Linked DNA regions of Homo sapiens: region 1 is linked to region 2. The links come from fine-mapping of genetic effects on gene expression. A gene starts in region 2. The other region holds a variant in brackets. All regions are shown on one strand. Distances are from middle to middle.

Evidence for each region. PIP is the estimated chance that this variant, and not a neighbour inherited with it, causes the effect.
Region 1: its variant is fine-mapped to the expression of PLCH1 in whole blood (INTERVAL, PIP above 0.99).

Annotation. Positions count from the first base shown.
Region 1 is chr3:155,554,814-155,563,149 of GRCh38, forward strand. The region is part of intron 8 of PLCH1 (phospholipase C eta 1); the gene reads right to left. Among named protein-coding and RNA genes, the nearest start is that of PLCH1-AS2, 73 kb to the left of the region's middle. The variant A/C (reference allele first, on the strand shown) is at 4,255.
Region 2 is chr3:155,741,620-155,749,955 of GRCh38, forward strand. It overlaps PLCH1 (phospholipase C eta 1), which reads right to left and starts at 3,452. Exons shown (of 23, transcript NM_014996.4): 1 at 3,221-3,452. RefSeq lists enhancers at 2,689-3,310, 3,205-3,414.

The sequences.
Region 1 (8,336 bases), 190 kb before region 2:
AATAGCACTTACATCATAAATTTGAGTGACAGTTAAATATATGTAAAGTAGCTTGTAACACTGCATGGCATATAGTAACTATGATTGTTATTGATACTATTAATATTGCTCTCTACCCACACAATCTCATTAGCTCTCAGCTGGAGAAAGACAGTAGGTTTTTCACCATGCCCCTCTGACTAAGAATTTGCTTTCTCTTGTTTTTATATTTTGCCCCCAGGCTAATTCCTCAAAACACTACTTTCACCTCATTGCTCCTTTGCTCAAAAGCCTACTTGGTGCATAGCACAGCATCCAACACAGAGAAGTAAGTAGTCTGTAAATATATGCTAAATGGATTAATAAATATCTTACCTCATACAATAGCTCTTGCGTGCTTACCTCCAACGCCCCTGTCTCTTGTGCTAGAGCCTGGCTAATCATTCACTAACCCTGTTTCTTCTTTTATCGAGGGAACACAGCTGGACTCTATTTCCTAGCCTTCCTTTGCAGGAGGATGTGGCCAGTGAAATGTGGGCAGAAAGTATGTGCACCACTTCCAGGTATGGTTGACAGAAACCTGCTGCCTTACATAATCATTCGTCTTCTTTCCTCTTCTGCTGTGACTTTAGAAGTGGTGAAGATGGCACAGCCACAAGATGGAAAAAGACAAAACTGCTTGAGAGATTCACCCACTAGGAACACCTATTTTGAACTTGACATAATCAAGAAATAAACTTCAGTTGTTTTAAGGCACAGGAAATTTGAAGTTTTATTGTTAAAAGGACAATGTTGCCTTAATTACCATGCTAGCTCCTGTCTGACAATTCAATCTTACTTTCTCCTACACCCAAGCTCACAGGCTTGTTCTTCTGGTTAGGCAAATTTTCTCACACACATTCCCACCTCCATGTGTCTTTTCTTCTTTCTTTAAAGTCAACTGACATATCCCCTTCTCATTTTGCTTACCTAAATCCTAATCAAGGCAAAACTAGGATCCCCCACAGAACCTCGCTAGCCCACAGGATCTCTCTTTTCCTTATGGCAAGAGGTCATCATCTCAAACACCACCAAAAGCCTAGCAGTTAATATAAATAAGTGCAGCGGCTCAATGGGAAATGTGTGCCTGAATGAGATAACTACTTACTGTTAATCATTACTAAGTAGGAATGAGAACCTTGGTTGCCAGAACTTCTGAGGAAACTAAAATGTCTAGATTTTATTGCTGTGAATTTTCCCAATTTTTAAATACTGGCAATTAATCCATTTTTAAAACTACAATATGGGTCAAACATAAACATTTCTGCAAGCTGAATTTGCATAATGGAATGCTGATTGAAAGTCTGCCTTTAGAGTTCGAGACCGGCCTGGCCAACATGGTGAAACCCCTTCTCCGCTAAAAATACAAAAATTAGCTGTGTGTGGTGGCGGATGCCTGTAATCCCAGCTACTCAGGAGGCTGAGGCAGGAGAATCGCTTGAACCCGGGAGGTGGAGGATGCAGTGAGTCGAGCTCGTGACATTGCAACTCCAGCCTGGGCAACAAGAGTGAAACTCCGTCTCAAAATAAAAGAAACTCTGCCTTTAATTAGGACCACACAGTTGTGAACCACATATGTTCTCTATTTTAGTAGCACCTTCCCCTATATGTGTGTTTTGTGTATTACCCCAGGAGATATCTCTGTTTTTCTTTTAAAATATTCAAAATGCTCACCATAATTACAATGTGATTGTAATGGTTAATTTTTCATGTCAATGAGGCTTGGCTATGATGTTCAGTTATTTGGTCAAACACCAGTCTATATGTTCTGTGAAGATATTTTAAAAATAGGATTAACATTTAAATCAGTAGGCTTTGGGTAAAGCCGATTATGCTCCACAATGTGAGTGGGCCTCGCCCAGTCAGCTGAGAGCCTTAAGAGCAAAGACTGAGGTTACCCTTCAAGGATAAATTCTCAACACTGCAACACAGAAACTGCCTGAATTCCAGCCTGCTGGCCAGCTCTACAGATTTCAGATTTGCCAACACCCACAAGCATGAGAGTCAATTCCTTAAAAATCAGACAACGAATCTCAATCTCTTGCTTTCTCTACATATCTTATTGGTTCTGTTTCTCTGCAGAACCCCGACTAATACAGCTATCTATATTAATCCACTAAACACTGGCTGTTCAAATATCCCTATGGGAAAAAAATAGAAAAAATAAAAGAAGAAAAAACATTCACAGTTGATACCACAGGAATGCTAAAAACAATGTTTAAGGATAAAATGCTGTTAAGAAAACCAAAGGTTCTGAGATACTATCAGAGAGTGTCTACTATTCCTTGGGGCCTGCAAATGAGGTCATATGTATCAACAACATCTTCTCACAAGAGAAGCGTCATCCATATTTTTCCATGTACTTGACAGTCTTTAATTTGTCTCTGGAAATAATTATGGAAAAAACTTAACAGGTGTTTCAAATAATATATAATTTTAACAATTTTTACCCTGTTTTGTGGTCCCTTCTTGGAGAAGAAAGAGCATAACAGGATTCTTCATAAAGGAACTAATAGCTTTTCCAAAAGAATGCAAAGGCGACAAAGCAATACCTTGCCCGACTTGCTTATGGTGTCTACATCAAAAATTAAAACTACACGAGTCATGAAAGAAGGCACTCTTTGGCTAGTATTTACAACATAGGCAGAATATTCATAACTGAGGATAGGAGGTTCTCCTAATGTTCAATTTTTATATCTAATTCCATCACTTGTCTGTGAGATGAAGATAACAACATTCCCAAATGGTACTGGCATCTTAATATGTGGCATTCGTGGCCAGGTTCAAATGGCAGTGAAGTTTCCTGTAAGTGCTAATGCTGTAAATGGGAATGTTGGCAAGGTAGAAATCCTCTGTCCAATTCCCCTGCTCATAAAAGAGCCGGGGCCCATTTTTCAATCAGGTTACACACTATGGAACCCCAAAAGCAAAGCAACTCCAACAAAGATTTAGCCATTCTGAAGGCCAAATAGCTAACATGACAGCTTTTCATAATGGAGCTTAAAGACGTTCCACCCTGATAGCACTCCCAGAGATAACTGGAGAAGTCATAAACCGATTACAACAGCAATGCAACATCAGTCCCATAATGAGAATGAAAATCCCCTGGACAGAACATCCATATTTATTAAGCAACTCAGGCTGAAAATCAAGCGAATAAAAGGCCATGTAAAAATGTTATCCATTTGATTTGCTGACAAGCCCACCTCACCAAAAAGACTTATTGCTCTTCCTCAAGACACTGTGTACATATCCTGACTAAGGACATTATTGCAGCTGAACTAATGGAGATGGAAAACATAACATTACCAAAATAGAAGCTTGAAAGTAGAGAGAACCTCCAGGTCACAATAGTGTGAAAATACTGTAGAATCATTCTTCTCCATCTCTCAAGTGCTACACTTAGCAAAAGCTGCTTCAGAAAACAGCTGTGGGACCTGAAATTTTCAACCCATGACCGGCTACATTCTATAAATTGTGTTCTTTAAATTCTAACTGCAGCTGTTTAAGAATAAAAATACCTTCATCTGGCCACATGGCAGATAAAATGCCACTAGGTATACAGCAGTACCCCTTTATCCTCGGGAGATAAATTCTAAGGCTCCCGGTAGATGCCTGAAACTGCAAAGTACTGAACCTTATACATACACCCTTGTTTTTTTCCTACATATACATACCTATAATAAAGTTTAGTTTATAGATTAGGTCAGTAAGATATTCACAATAACTAATAGTAAAACAGAACAATTATACTGCAATAAAAGTTATGTGAATGTGGTTTCTCTCTCAAGATATTTTACTGTATCACCTTTCCTCTTGTGGTGAAGAAGGGACAGAGTAGGACGGTGTGAGATTTCATCACACTACTTAGAATGGTACACAACTTAAAACTTATATGTTGTTTCTCTCTGGAATTTCTATTTAATATTTTCGGGGTGCAGCTGACCATGGCTAACTGAAACCATGGAAAATGAAACCGCAGATAAGAGGAGACTACTATACACACACTGGTGTCTCTGTGCCCAAGCTTCAAATGTGGACTAAGGTCTTCAAATCACAGGACTGACAGATATTGTTAGGAGGACCACAGAGATCATGTCACCAAATGCTAAGCCTTCAGGAACATCTAAATATTTAGGTGGTAGGCCTAATCACAAATGAAGCAAATTCCTCCTTTTAATGCCAACCTCTCCTCTATGTTGTGCTCCTCACTTTCTCTGGCCATCCTTATATGAC[A/C]TGACAGCCTCATTCAATTCCTTAGGGCTGGTCATGTCATTCAATGCTTGCTCCTCCAAAAACACACAGACTTTCTGGAGAACAGTGCAATTCAAGAGTCAGACCAACCTGAGTTCAAATCCCAGCTTCCAAGCTTCCTAACCTCGGGAACTTAAGCCATTTATTTAACTATGAGTTGAATCTCTTAAGAAGAGATTATTCCCTCTTTCTTGGTGGTGTTATAAGAATTAAATGAGAATGCACGGAAAACACTTAGCCAGGACCTGGTCCACTAAAGTTGCTAAAATCATAGTAGGTCCTCTTTTCCTTCCTACAATACATTCAAATCCAAGGTGACAACCACTATTTCCAATAAGAAATAGGTCAAACACACAAAAACAAAATGAACAAACAAATACAAAGAAATAGGTCAAATGCAAAGCTGGCCAAGTCTCTGAGATAAATATAATTATTCTCCTCAAGAAAAACATTCCAGAAATAGTAGTTCAACTTCTATTGTCCAGTTATAGATTATTCTAATAATAAGAACTTTAAGCCAAATACTAGGGAAAGAATTTACTGATGCAAGCTGGTGAGGAAGATATTTGGGAGCATATAAAAAATTACATATCCTTCAAAATTATACCATAGCTGTGCATAGCCTCGTTTGTACAAGTATCTGGAGAAGGTAACCTTTTGGACATACAGAGCCAAGTAGCTTCTTTATATTACAGCAGCGACTGGAAAACAGGAAGTAAGAAGGTACAAGAGAAGGCTCTTGTTCAATGTCATCTACTGCACACAATTTCCAAAAGCTCCCATTTTAGAATTAAAAGACTACTGGAAAAGCAACAACTAAAAATCATGTGTACTTTATCATGAATTATCTTAATCAGATAACTTTCCTTCTTAATACCCCAAACAAAGCTGGAGGTTTAGAAGTTTTGAGTCGGTATAAGGAATTAATGACAGAAACATGGTTAGGCTTGGGTAGGATACTGATTTTGGACAGGTAAACCAAAAAGAGAAGCCTAGGTATCTGAAAGAACTGAAAAGCAAAAGAAATAGAGCAGAAGAGACAGAATTAACAAAGTTGTAAAATTGTCTAGAGTTGACTGTCACTTCATGGAGTCACTAAAAGTCATTTTCTGTACTTGAACCTCCAAGAAAATGTCACTATTTACAATGATAGGCAACCATCAGTGTGAATCCAATGAGGCTGTGTGCTCAGGGCATCTCTATGCATGCCAGACATGAAAACTTGTTGAGTGCTAAGCAAACAAAGGGCTGAATAATGGCTGAGAGCAGAATGTCACCTTGAGACATCTTACTGCTTGAAAGGATTTTCTTCCTCTTAATATTTTATAGCATCTTCATTATTCAGTTGTTTAAGCTACTCAATTGTTAATCACTATTGCTGGTATGTACTCTCTGCAACTATTGCAAAAATACTATTGAACGACTAAATTTACAGAGCATTCAATTTGTAGTCATCCTAATGTTTCTGTATGCAGGTAGTTTTTAATACCTGCCCATTTTTTAAGCATGTTGATTTACCTTAATAACATTACTGTCACTTTTGTAGCAGAAAATTCAAGCTAGAAACTATCTGACAAAGAAAGGCCCTTCCAGTTAAGCAGTCTTATCTCATTGTCCTACTGCTTTATTCATTGCCCTGCACTTTCCACCATGCCTAGGAAAACCAGTCATCCCACTGCTGACTCCCAGCACATTCCCCACCAAAATCAAAAGACAATTCCCTGTGACTCATGGCATCTCCATTCAATCATAAACCAACTCCCTTTTATCTTCAGACTCCCTTTGGAATTCTCCTCAACCTCCTTACCCTGGCTAAGCACCAGCTTACCTTCGAGGGCACTACTTCCTTTCTCCAAGGATGCTCTTTTGTATAAATCACAGAAGATTTAGATATAAACCAAAAGGCATTATCTATGCCTTTACTGCTACTTTTAAATGATTGTTCTTCTACACTCATTAAAAAATCTCTCCTCTTTTGAAGCTTATTCTATCCAGCTATACCTTTCTGGCATCTTCTAATCACCTTTTCTTTTTTTTTTAATTATTATTTCTTATTATTATTATACTTTAAGTTTTAGGGTACATGTGCACATTGTGCAGGTTAGTTACATATGTATACATGTGCCATGCTGGTGCGCTGCACCCACTAACTCATCATCTAGCATTAGGTATATCTCCCAGTGCTATCCCTCCCCCCCTCCCCCCACCCCACAACAGTCCCCAGAGTGTGATGTTCCCCTTCCTGTGTCCATGTGCTCTCATTGTTCAATTCCCACCTATGAGTGAGAATATGCGGAGTTTGGTTTTTTGTTCTTGCGATAGTTTCCTGAGAATGATGATTTCCAATTTCATCCATGTCCCTACAAAGGACATGAACTCATCATTTTTTATGGCTGCATAGTATTCCATGGTGTATATGTGCCACATTTTCTTAATCCAGTCTATCATTGTTGGACATTTGGGTTGGTTCCAAGCCTTTGCTATTGTGAATAATGCCGCAATAAACATACGTGTGCATGTGTCTTTATAGCAGCATGATTTATAGTCCTTTGGGCATATACCCAGTAATGGGATGGCTGGGTCAAATGGTATTTCTAGTTCTAGATCCCTGAGGAATCGCCACACTGACTTCCACAATGGTTGAACTAGTTTACAGTCCCACCAACAGTGTAAAAGTGTTCCTATTTCTCCACATCCTCTCCAGTACTTTTTTTTTGATGGAATCTCATTCTGTTGCCCAGGCTGGAGTGCAAAGGCATGATCTCGGCTCACTGCAACCTCTGCCTCCTGGGTTCAAGTGATTCTCCTGCCTCAGCCTCCTGAGCAGCTGGGACTACAGGTGCATGCCACCATGCCCGGATAATTCTTGCAGTTTTAGTAGAGATGCGGTTTCACCATGTTGGCCAGGCTGGTCTCAAACTCCTGACCTCAAGCCTCAGCCTGTCTCAGCCTCCTAAAGTGCTGGGATTACAGGCATGAGCCACTGCGCCTGGCCACATTGTTTTTATACTTAAGTGTCTGGTTTATAGTTTTAATCTCCAATCTGCTCCTGTCTGCATACTTTGTAAATTAAAACACCATGTAGCCATCTATTTAATCCCTTAGCACTGACCTCCTCCAGGCCAATAATCCCTTGCTTCACTCTGTTTCCATGATGCTCACCCATGACACAATCTGGAAATTGTCACCTGTGACTAAATCCCATTGCAATGACAGCTCTGTTCTCATTTTCTTAAAGTGTGATGACAACTTTCCACATTTTTCTATTTATTTGAGTCTTCTAGTCTCTTAATCTTATTTTATGGCCCCCTATCCACTTCGCTTCCTTTCCTAGAACCATGGAGCCCCTGTCAGTTACTTATAAGAGCTCTCACCAATACCTTGAAGATATTTAATATGATCTAGAAATCCCGAGACTTGGATCAATTCCATAATCTGTCTTCACTACTTCTCTAAGCAGATGAGTACTGCTGGGGATGGGATCAAAGGGAGTCTAAGCATCCAGATTTTGAATCAGTAAAGACTGTTTTTGAAATCAGCTTGGGCTTCCCTGACTTACCTTGTCAATTCCTTTCCCATTCTCTGATGACTTCTTTAACAATTTGCTGATTTTAAGCCCTGTGGCCAATCTCCACTCACTTTATACTGAGTGGATGATGTTCTCTCCTACTTCTCTGAGAAAACAGGCATGCGCCCTTTCAAAAATCTCTTGTCCCCTTTATTCCACCTGAAAACAAACCTATATTATTTCCCCCACTTCCAAGTCTCAAAGTTGCCCCCCAGCCTATATCATCAAACATTTGGATGCAGAAAAATGCCCAGTCACCAATCGACAGCAGGTAACCAACTGCCCACTAACATATCACCAACCTACATAGCAAAGGCCACCAACAATTCCCTGCTGTCAAATACAACTAAATTGGATACTTAGTTTTATTTTATTTTTCTGTTCCCTGTGGCATTTCTGGCTATTCCTTTCTAACCCTTTCATCCTTTAGATCCAAGTACTCCTGTTCTCTGCACTGGCCTTGCTGGCTCCCCTTGTGCTCCCTACTCCTAATCGT
Region 2 (8,336 bases):
AAAAGTTAAATGTTTAAATACTCTATTGTATTCCTTTTATCCTTTTATCATAATTTTATATCCTCTTTTTTTTTTTTTTTTTTTTGTTCAGGGAAAAAATAGTTATGATCCTTCAGGCATGCAGACCAACATTCTTAGAAGGAAGCTGCAGAAGGTTCATTATGTCATGAAACACAGAGCCAGAACAAAGGATTACTGAATCACTCACCTTATCTTCATCTAAGAAACCTGAGAATTACAAGGTTTCTGTTTCTTCTAAACTCTGTGCTGCACTTGCCAAGACTACAAGTTTTAGAGTAGAGTTTGTACTTCAAAAATGTAAGCAAATAGGTGCACATAATGCTTCCTATCCTAGATGTACAGCCTTATCTAAATTACTCAGTTTCAGCATTTGTTTCTGAATCTGCAAGTCTGAGTGATTAGCACCAAATCAATCGTTCTCCTTAAGAGTACCAAAGGTAGTATCTTCACTCTGAACGTCTGAAGTGGTATTAGAATTATTTCAGGACTCACAGCTCTTAGTTCATTCAGAACAGAAATCTGGATTTATTCATCTTGCCTTATATATAATACGTTCTCAATAAACATTTGTTGACTAAGTGAATAAATTAAGTAAAAAACATTTCGTTAAGAATTTTCACAGTATTTTACATTATGGCACCCTAACAAGGAGCACTTTTATCATATTCTATGTTTATAATACTAGCCCTATATCTGAAAGACTGATTTTTAAAATAAATTTAATTGAAGTTGATGATGTGGGAAAATATATCAAACGGAAGCAATAACTTTAAACAGATTTTATTGCAAATCTGGTGCCACTATAAATCCTCGCTCTGCCCATCAACCTTCCCTCTCTTTGTCTCCTTCCCATTGCCTCTCCCCAGCCTCCCCCAGGTACTCCCAGTCTCATTATCCCATGATCTGTTAAAACTGCAGTTTACCTCCTGGAACCAGCAGAAACACATGTCACTGAGAATTAGGGAATTGGAGCCAGTTACAAGCCACCAAATAGGGTCACAAAGTATCTGAACCTGAAAATTAAGAGTTTTTCTATTTTGCTAAACATGAGAAAAGGGGAAAAACTCAGTTGGACTTATTTTTAAACATTTGAGCTAGATGGATTGCACAATGTTAAGAATTTATGACAAATGAGATGGGAGACAACTTTAACAGCATGTTACTCGCTAATCATTTGAAAAGTGGTATGTTTGATTTCATTTGCTGATGGTGGGAGGATATTATCTTAAAACATCTACCACAAATAAACACTTGCTATTCTTGAAAACAAATTGCTTGAAACTGGTATGTAGCGAGACAGTACTCACGTATTACTTCATCCAAGGTATTTTATGCCACACTTTATCCCAAGAAGAATAACTCCATTTTAAATTTGTATTAGCATTTATGTTAATTCTAACCAATGTTAAATAGCAACTAGGTACCAATCATGCTGCCAAATATTGATGCAGTTTAAGAAAAATAAGCAAGAAGCTACCGCTCCTTCTACATACCCCTTAAGATGTGTACTTTTGCCAAATGCTAGGCTGTATGTAAACAAACGGATTTTAAAAGAGGGGATAGGGCTGTCAAGATTCACAATTTTATGAAAATGAAAATGATTCTCATCTGCTGGGCGCGGTGGCTCACGCCTGTGATCCCCACACTTTGGGAGGCAGAGGTGGGTGGATCACCTGAGGTCAGGAGTTCCAGACCAGCCTGGCCAATATGGTGAAACCCCGTCTCTACTAAAAATACAAAAAATAGCTGGGCGTGGTGGCGGGAGCCTGTAATCCCAGATACTCGGGAGGCTGAGGCAAGAGAATAGCTTGAACCCAGGAGGCGGAGGTTGCAGTGAGCCGAGATCGCACCACTGCACTCCAGCCTGGGCGACAGAGCCAGACTCCGTCTCAAAAAAGAAAAAAAGAAAAAGAAAATGACCAGCTTGAGAAAACTGGCTTCTGTTAAGGCTTCTTGAAGCATTCTCTGCAGAAGACTTTAACCCCAAAGGTGACCAAAACGCTGAGGCAACTGAAAAAAACTACCGCCTCTTCTGGGAAATCCTTTGTTTCTTTTCATTGGCATTATACTCTGGTCCCTTTTGCAGAGCATCTCCTTGTCATAAACATGCCAATAAACAGGACATGGGTGCTGCTGGGTTGTACAAGCTCTGCTCTTCACCTGGGTTAGGAGGCACAGATTTGTTCTTGTAACGCTCGAGAACAATCACTTCACTGAATTTTCTAACTCCTTACCAGGAAGTAAATGTTTTATTCGTCTCCCCTTTTCGGGACAGAGGGGGATTTCAATTGCTGCCCTAATAACTAATCTCTCACCATTTTCTTCTGTCCGTGATCAAAACGGTAACAAGGGAAGGGAAAAGTTGGGTTTTTTTTTTTAATTTAGTTGGTTATTGCTTTAATGCTGAACTCTCAACGTCAAAATGTGATCACAAATTGATTCGCAGAAGGAAACAAATAGAAAAAGCCTCGGGAAGGAGGGGAGAGGGCGTCGCAGACGCTCAACAGGGAACTGGGTTTAGGGGCTCGCGGGGTGGCGTCTCGGACCCGCAGCTCAGTCGCCAAGGAAACGCCGCGCAGGCGCAGAGCGTGCCGCCGCGGGGCCGGGGTTTGCCTCCACCACCCCGCGCCGCTCGGGCGCTCTTGGTTCTTCCCAGGAAAGGGCAATGGAGTATATCCTCCTCGCGCTGAGCACACCTAGTCTCTAAGAGGTCCTGAGCAGGGTCACCGGGCGCAGGAAAAGCTGTGAGACTCCCCAAGTGTAACGGACGCTGCACTCCCCTTGCTGGGAAACGCGGACCTGCTCTCCTGGCGGCGTCTGGCGGTCAGAGAGAGGGTCCCGGGACCCCGCGTGAGGGTGAAGCATCCTGCAGCGAGGCTGGACCTTCCACCGGGCGAAACGCCACCCACCACCACCGCAAGGGACCCGAGAGTTACATTATTTCGCGGACACACACACCCACCCTCATCCTTCTGAATTATGGGACCCTGAAGAGCGGCCGTGGCCAGTTCCCCGCACGGGGCCTTAGGGGATCCCCACGCACAGCACTCACAGTCCTAAACAGGCGTGTGCCGGCTGTGGCTGCCGAGAAAGGAACTTGGGCCACCTGCTCACTCGCTCATCGGACTGGCGTACCAGTTCTCTTTTTCCTGCACACCCCCTTCTCTCCTGGGCCCCTTCTTCCCCCGAAAGCACTGACCTCCTCAGCTTTGAGTGTTCAGTAGCTGAAGGACTCCTCGGAGTCCGTGGCACAAGGAGCCACCTCCGAAGTGCTGGGGTGATGAGTTATTGGCCCCTGTGACTCCAACTCCAAACCCCTGCCAAGGGCCAGAAAAGCCCCCCTAGAAGAGCACTTCTCCCCACTAGCCAGCAGAAGCCCCAGACGAGCGGGGAAGAGCAGGGCGCCGCCGCCACAACCTGCTTTCTCATTCAAATCCTCACGCTCACACAGGAGCCCCCCTCCCTCTCGGCCCCGCAGCTTCCGAGGAAATCAGGAACTGGAGTTGCGGAGAGCGGACTGGAGCGCCTGCTGCCTCCTCTGGCCCGGGCGGGATGGGTGTACGGAACCCTAGGGCTGCACGTGGAACCCCAAGGCTGCACCTGGAACCCTTGGCTTACACTCTCCTGCGGGGCTCCCCGCTTGGCAAGGGCCAGAAGCACTGGGAATGAAGTACTTTTACTCCCCCGCAAGTTTCAAAAGTTTCGAAACCCAGGGTAACCCCTCGGGGCTGTAGCCAGAGGGCCTCGGTGGTGGGGGGTAAAGGAGTTGGAGAAACAAAGTTGGAAGTGAAGGGCGCAGGGAATGGGAACTGCGTGCAACTTGCACCAAAGTGAAAAGTGTTCTCAAACGTCCGTCTTACCTCCTTTAAAAAAAAAAAATTTCTAAGAATATAGCATCTGTCGATGCCGCAAATTAAAGAGATCTACTCTGAGTGAATGGGAACTGCGTGCAACTTGCACCAAAGTAAAAAGTGTTCTCAAACGCCCGTCTTACCTCCTTTAAAAAAAAAAAATTTCTAAGAATATAGCATCTGTCGATGCCGCAAATTAAAGAGATCTACTCTGAGTGAAGTGCAACTAAAATTGAGAGCGTGTAAATGGTAACACTTTGCTTTTATTTACCCCCAGTCTCTTCATTTGGAAATGCTACTCCTTGGCATTAACAGGCCACTTATTCACTTAGATCCGTTTAGTGGCTGGTTGACTCAAGCGGGCAACCTGCCGGGAGTAAGAAGGCGGCGGTGGCAGAGGAAAGCTTGCACGAAGCAGGCACTCAAGTGTTGATGAAACGATGAAATCTACTGAATGCACTGAAAGGATGAGTGACCAGCTTGGGGCGGATGCTGGAACCGCCGCTGGCCTAGACGGCCGCGGTGTGATCCGGCTTCTGGATTCCAGGATTTACATTTATCAGCCTTCATTCAACCTGCCCTATTGTTAGTTCAAAGCCTGGCTGGGAAGGAGTGGGGACGCAGCTCTTCACTCACCTTTCAGTTTAAAATAATCCTCCAATAAGAATGTCCTAGGAAAGCTGGCAGCATGGGGTTGGCAGGGATTTTCTGGGCTTAGTGACAACATAAACTAAAGTCATTTTCTTTTTTCATGCGTGAATTTGCCCAGGAAGTTACAAACGAGTAAGTTACAAATGAGTGCCTGAGATTGGAGCTCAGGGCCTTGGCTGCCTGTTCTCTTTGACAGACAGTGTGGAGGGTGGTAGCACTGTGACCTCTCAGCGCAAGATCTAGGGTTTCACCTTTTCATCCCACTTAGCCGATACCATAGAAACAACCCATTTGTATTATTCAATTCAACAGAGGCAATTACAATGTCACAGCAAAGCACCATGGGCAAGAAGAAACTTTGTCCTGAAAACAATCCTAGACTCTCAGAAAAAAGAAAAAAGCCACCAGAATACCCACTTGAATTTCTTCCTGCCAATAGTACCAGGAAGAAATCAATTTGGAAAAAATGTAGGTAAGGTCCTTTGCCTCTATAGAAAGAAACCTCCCCAAATTTACTTGTTTTTGTTTTTGTTTTTTTGCATGCCCATACACAAGCCTCAATTTATAAGAAATTAAGTCATTAACCCTCTGCCTCCAAACTGCTTTATATTTTGTAAACAAGCTTGTTGGAGATTTGTTTTGCTGGTAACCTCCATGGTGAATAGAAAAGCCAAAAAAAAAAAAAAAAAAAAAAAAACCACCAAGATAATCCCTCAACAGCAGCAGTTCACCCCCTAACCTCCGGTGTTTGTCTTTCTTGAGTCTGAAAAAATGCAGATGCACATGTTGAAATAAACTCAGACACAAAGTTCATAATAAGAGCACTTGTTTGCTATGCATTCTTTATTTTGATAGTTTTAATCAACTCCCATAATTTTGTAAACTTTTAAATTTTTAAATTGTGTGATATTTCAAACCTACCAAAAACAGGATATATACCATGTAATACTCCTGCTCCCCCCAGCCCTTCTTTTTTAAATAAAGCATTACAGATATAGCTAAACCCCAACTCCTGACTCGTTACCCCCACCCCTTCCCAAAGGTAATAATTCTGAAGTTGGTATGAATCATAATTATGCATGTTCTTAAATGTTTAGGACATTTATACATCCATAATCTTTTAATGTAGCTTTTCTCTCCAAGTCGTTTTAACATTATTTATCTGAGAAAAATCACTAAAACAATTAATTAATTAATTGGAGAAAATCACTAAAAACAAGAAAATGTGTTACATTGCTAAGTTTTTAGAAGCAGGACAGAACTATTTTTCCTGCTTGTGACAATCAGAGTATGGAATAATAACAAAGGGATTAGACAGTGGGTAATAAGCAGCCTCTCTAGGTTACACAAACTCTTCCATGGTTACCAAAGAATAAATAGAAAAACAAAACAAATAATACCCTCCTCTTTCACTGGTTAAAGGGGAACTGGAGAAAATGAGATCTTCATTAAAACTTCTTTGGGCAGGTAAGACAAACATCCTACATGGTAGTAAAGTACCTTTTCTAGAGGATCTCTTGGTCATGCAAGCTATGATCTTTTAGTAAGGATTTACCACTTTTCCAAGTATAAAGAACTCCTGCTGGTAGCTCAATACAAGGTTGAAATCCGCCTGGCTGAAAAGTCTGGGGTTGAATTAGCCCTGCCTCTTCAAGCACAGGGACATCCATCTGTACAGTAGTTACAAAAATCTTTTGCTGTGATTCTTTGACTTAATGTCCTCCCAGCATTAAAAGTGCTAAGAAAGCATCAATTTTTCTTAAATGCCATTGAATGGTGAAAGGCATCCTTCCCAACCCCCACCCTCTTCATTTCCTAAGCGATGACTCTCATTAATTATACTGGCACACCACTGCCCAGCCTCCCTTCTAAATAGCTGCCAGATTTCTACATATCATCTCTGCCTTGATACAGAATGTGCACTGACACCAGGATCACAGAAAATCCTGTAAGAGGTGCCTGATACACAGTAAAATGATTGATGTGCCTTGTGGTGAGCCTGCTGTGCTGCGTATCGTAGGGGGTTTCTTAGAAAACTGCACTGGGAATTTCTGTGTTGGAAAAAGATTTTTCTAGCTGTGCAAAAATTGTGCTTCCAGTTGCAAAAAGAGCCATTTATTTAAGGTGTTCAAATTTAAACAGCAACCATCTTGAGTTATATCCACGAGCAAGAGAGGAAAGGAGATAAATGTTCCCTATTTTAATCAATGCACCAAGTTAAGAAAACCATTGACCAAAAAAGCGTATCAAGGAAGAGGCACTCCTCTTTCAACACATATTTCTTTAGTACTTGCCATGTACCAGGCACTGCTCTAGGTGGTAAGCCTTAGCTGGAATATAGATAGCACTCCTGAAGTAGAGCGTAGTACCTGTCTTTATGGCCCTACTCTACAAATTGGTCACGGCTTTTAGGTACAAATAACAAAACCCCTTATCAAACCAGCTTGAGTAAAAAAAGCTGATGTATTGACTCCCACTTTAAGATAGGGGGAAGGATAAGGACTTCAGAAACGGTGGGAGTCTAGCAATTCAGAATCAGCATTTCTCTTGTTAAAGAAAAAATTAGTCAGTGTTAAAGCATGGTAAGGAAGGCTTTATCCAGCACGATCGAAATCGGCACAGGGACTACTGCAAGGAGCTCATGCAGAATACAGCATAGGCAGCTTGGAATTTATAGACAAAGAACAGATGGGGTTGCTGGATGAAAAATCACTAAGAGGAAACATCAGGAATATGAGGAACTCTAGCTAACCCGACATAACTGGATTCTTGCTGAACACAGGCCAGGGAGATCAGACATGACCTGGGCAATAGTGGAGGATGAGGGATCTGATCAGATATTGAGAATGATCAGATATGGAGAGTGGGGGTTCTTGCTAAACTGACTTGGCAGAACTCTTTTCTAAAACTGAGTTTTACAAGAAAACGCACATATGGGCCCAGGAGAAGGCTCAGAAGCATGACTAATGTTTGTTTGGCCAAGCAAGGAATTTTTGTCACTCTCACACTTTCACCTTTGCTCCTACTATTTCCCTGTCTCTGCTTTTCTCAGTGTTTTGATCCTATTCTCTCCTATTCCATATGAGCTTTCTGTACAAGCTGGGGGTGGGGAGAGCATGACTAGAGACAGCTCCAGGTTTCAATCGTCTCAGCTAGAGAGGCCTTTTTGCTTTTACCATCTGTAAATAAGATGGTAGGAAAGGATTCGAACTGACCTGACTTAGGTCATGTGTCCATCCATAGGTCAATTACTGTGGACAACAATAAGTAGAGTATATGTGTGGCCAGATCCTGATTATACACACACCCTTATGGCCAGGAAGGCGGGGTATTATAAGTAGCAGCCCATCAGAACTGCTTGGAACCAGGGAGGATTTGTTCCCAAGATGAAAGGGGCTGGTCCTACCAAGTGAAGGCAGGAAGAGATTCTGGCAAATAAAAAGAATAGATATGGGCTGGGCACGGTGGCTCACACCTGTAATACCAGCACTCTGGGAGGCTGAGGCGGGTGGATCATGAGGTCAGGAGTTCGAGACCAGCCTGGCTAATATGGTAAAACCCCGTCTCTACTAAAAATACAAAAATTAGCCAAGCATGGTGGCAGGCACCTGTAATCCCAGCTACTCGGGAGGCTGTGGCAGAGAATTGCTTGAACCCGGGAGGCAGAGGTTGCAGTGAGCCAAGATCGCGCCACTGCACTCCAGCCTGGGTGACAGAGCGAGACTCCGTCTCAAAAAAAAAAAAAAGAATAGATGTTCCCTAGGCTGCCCTCTCTTAAATCTGCTGCCAAAGAAAGAAACACCTTTATACTGA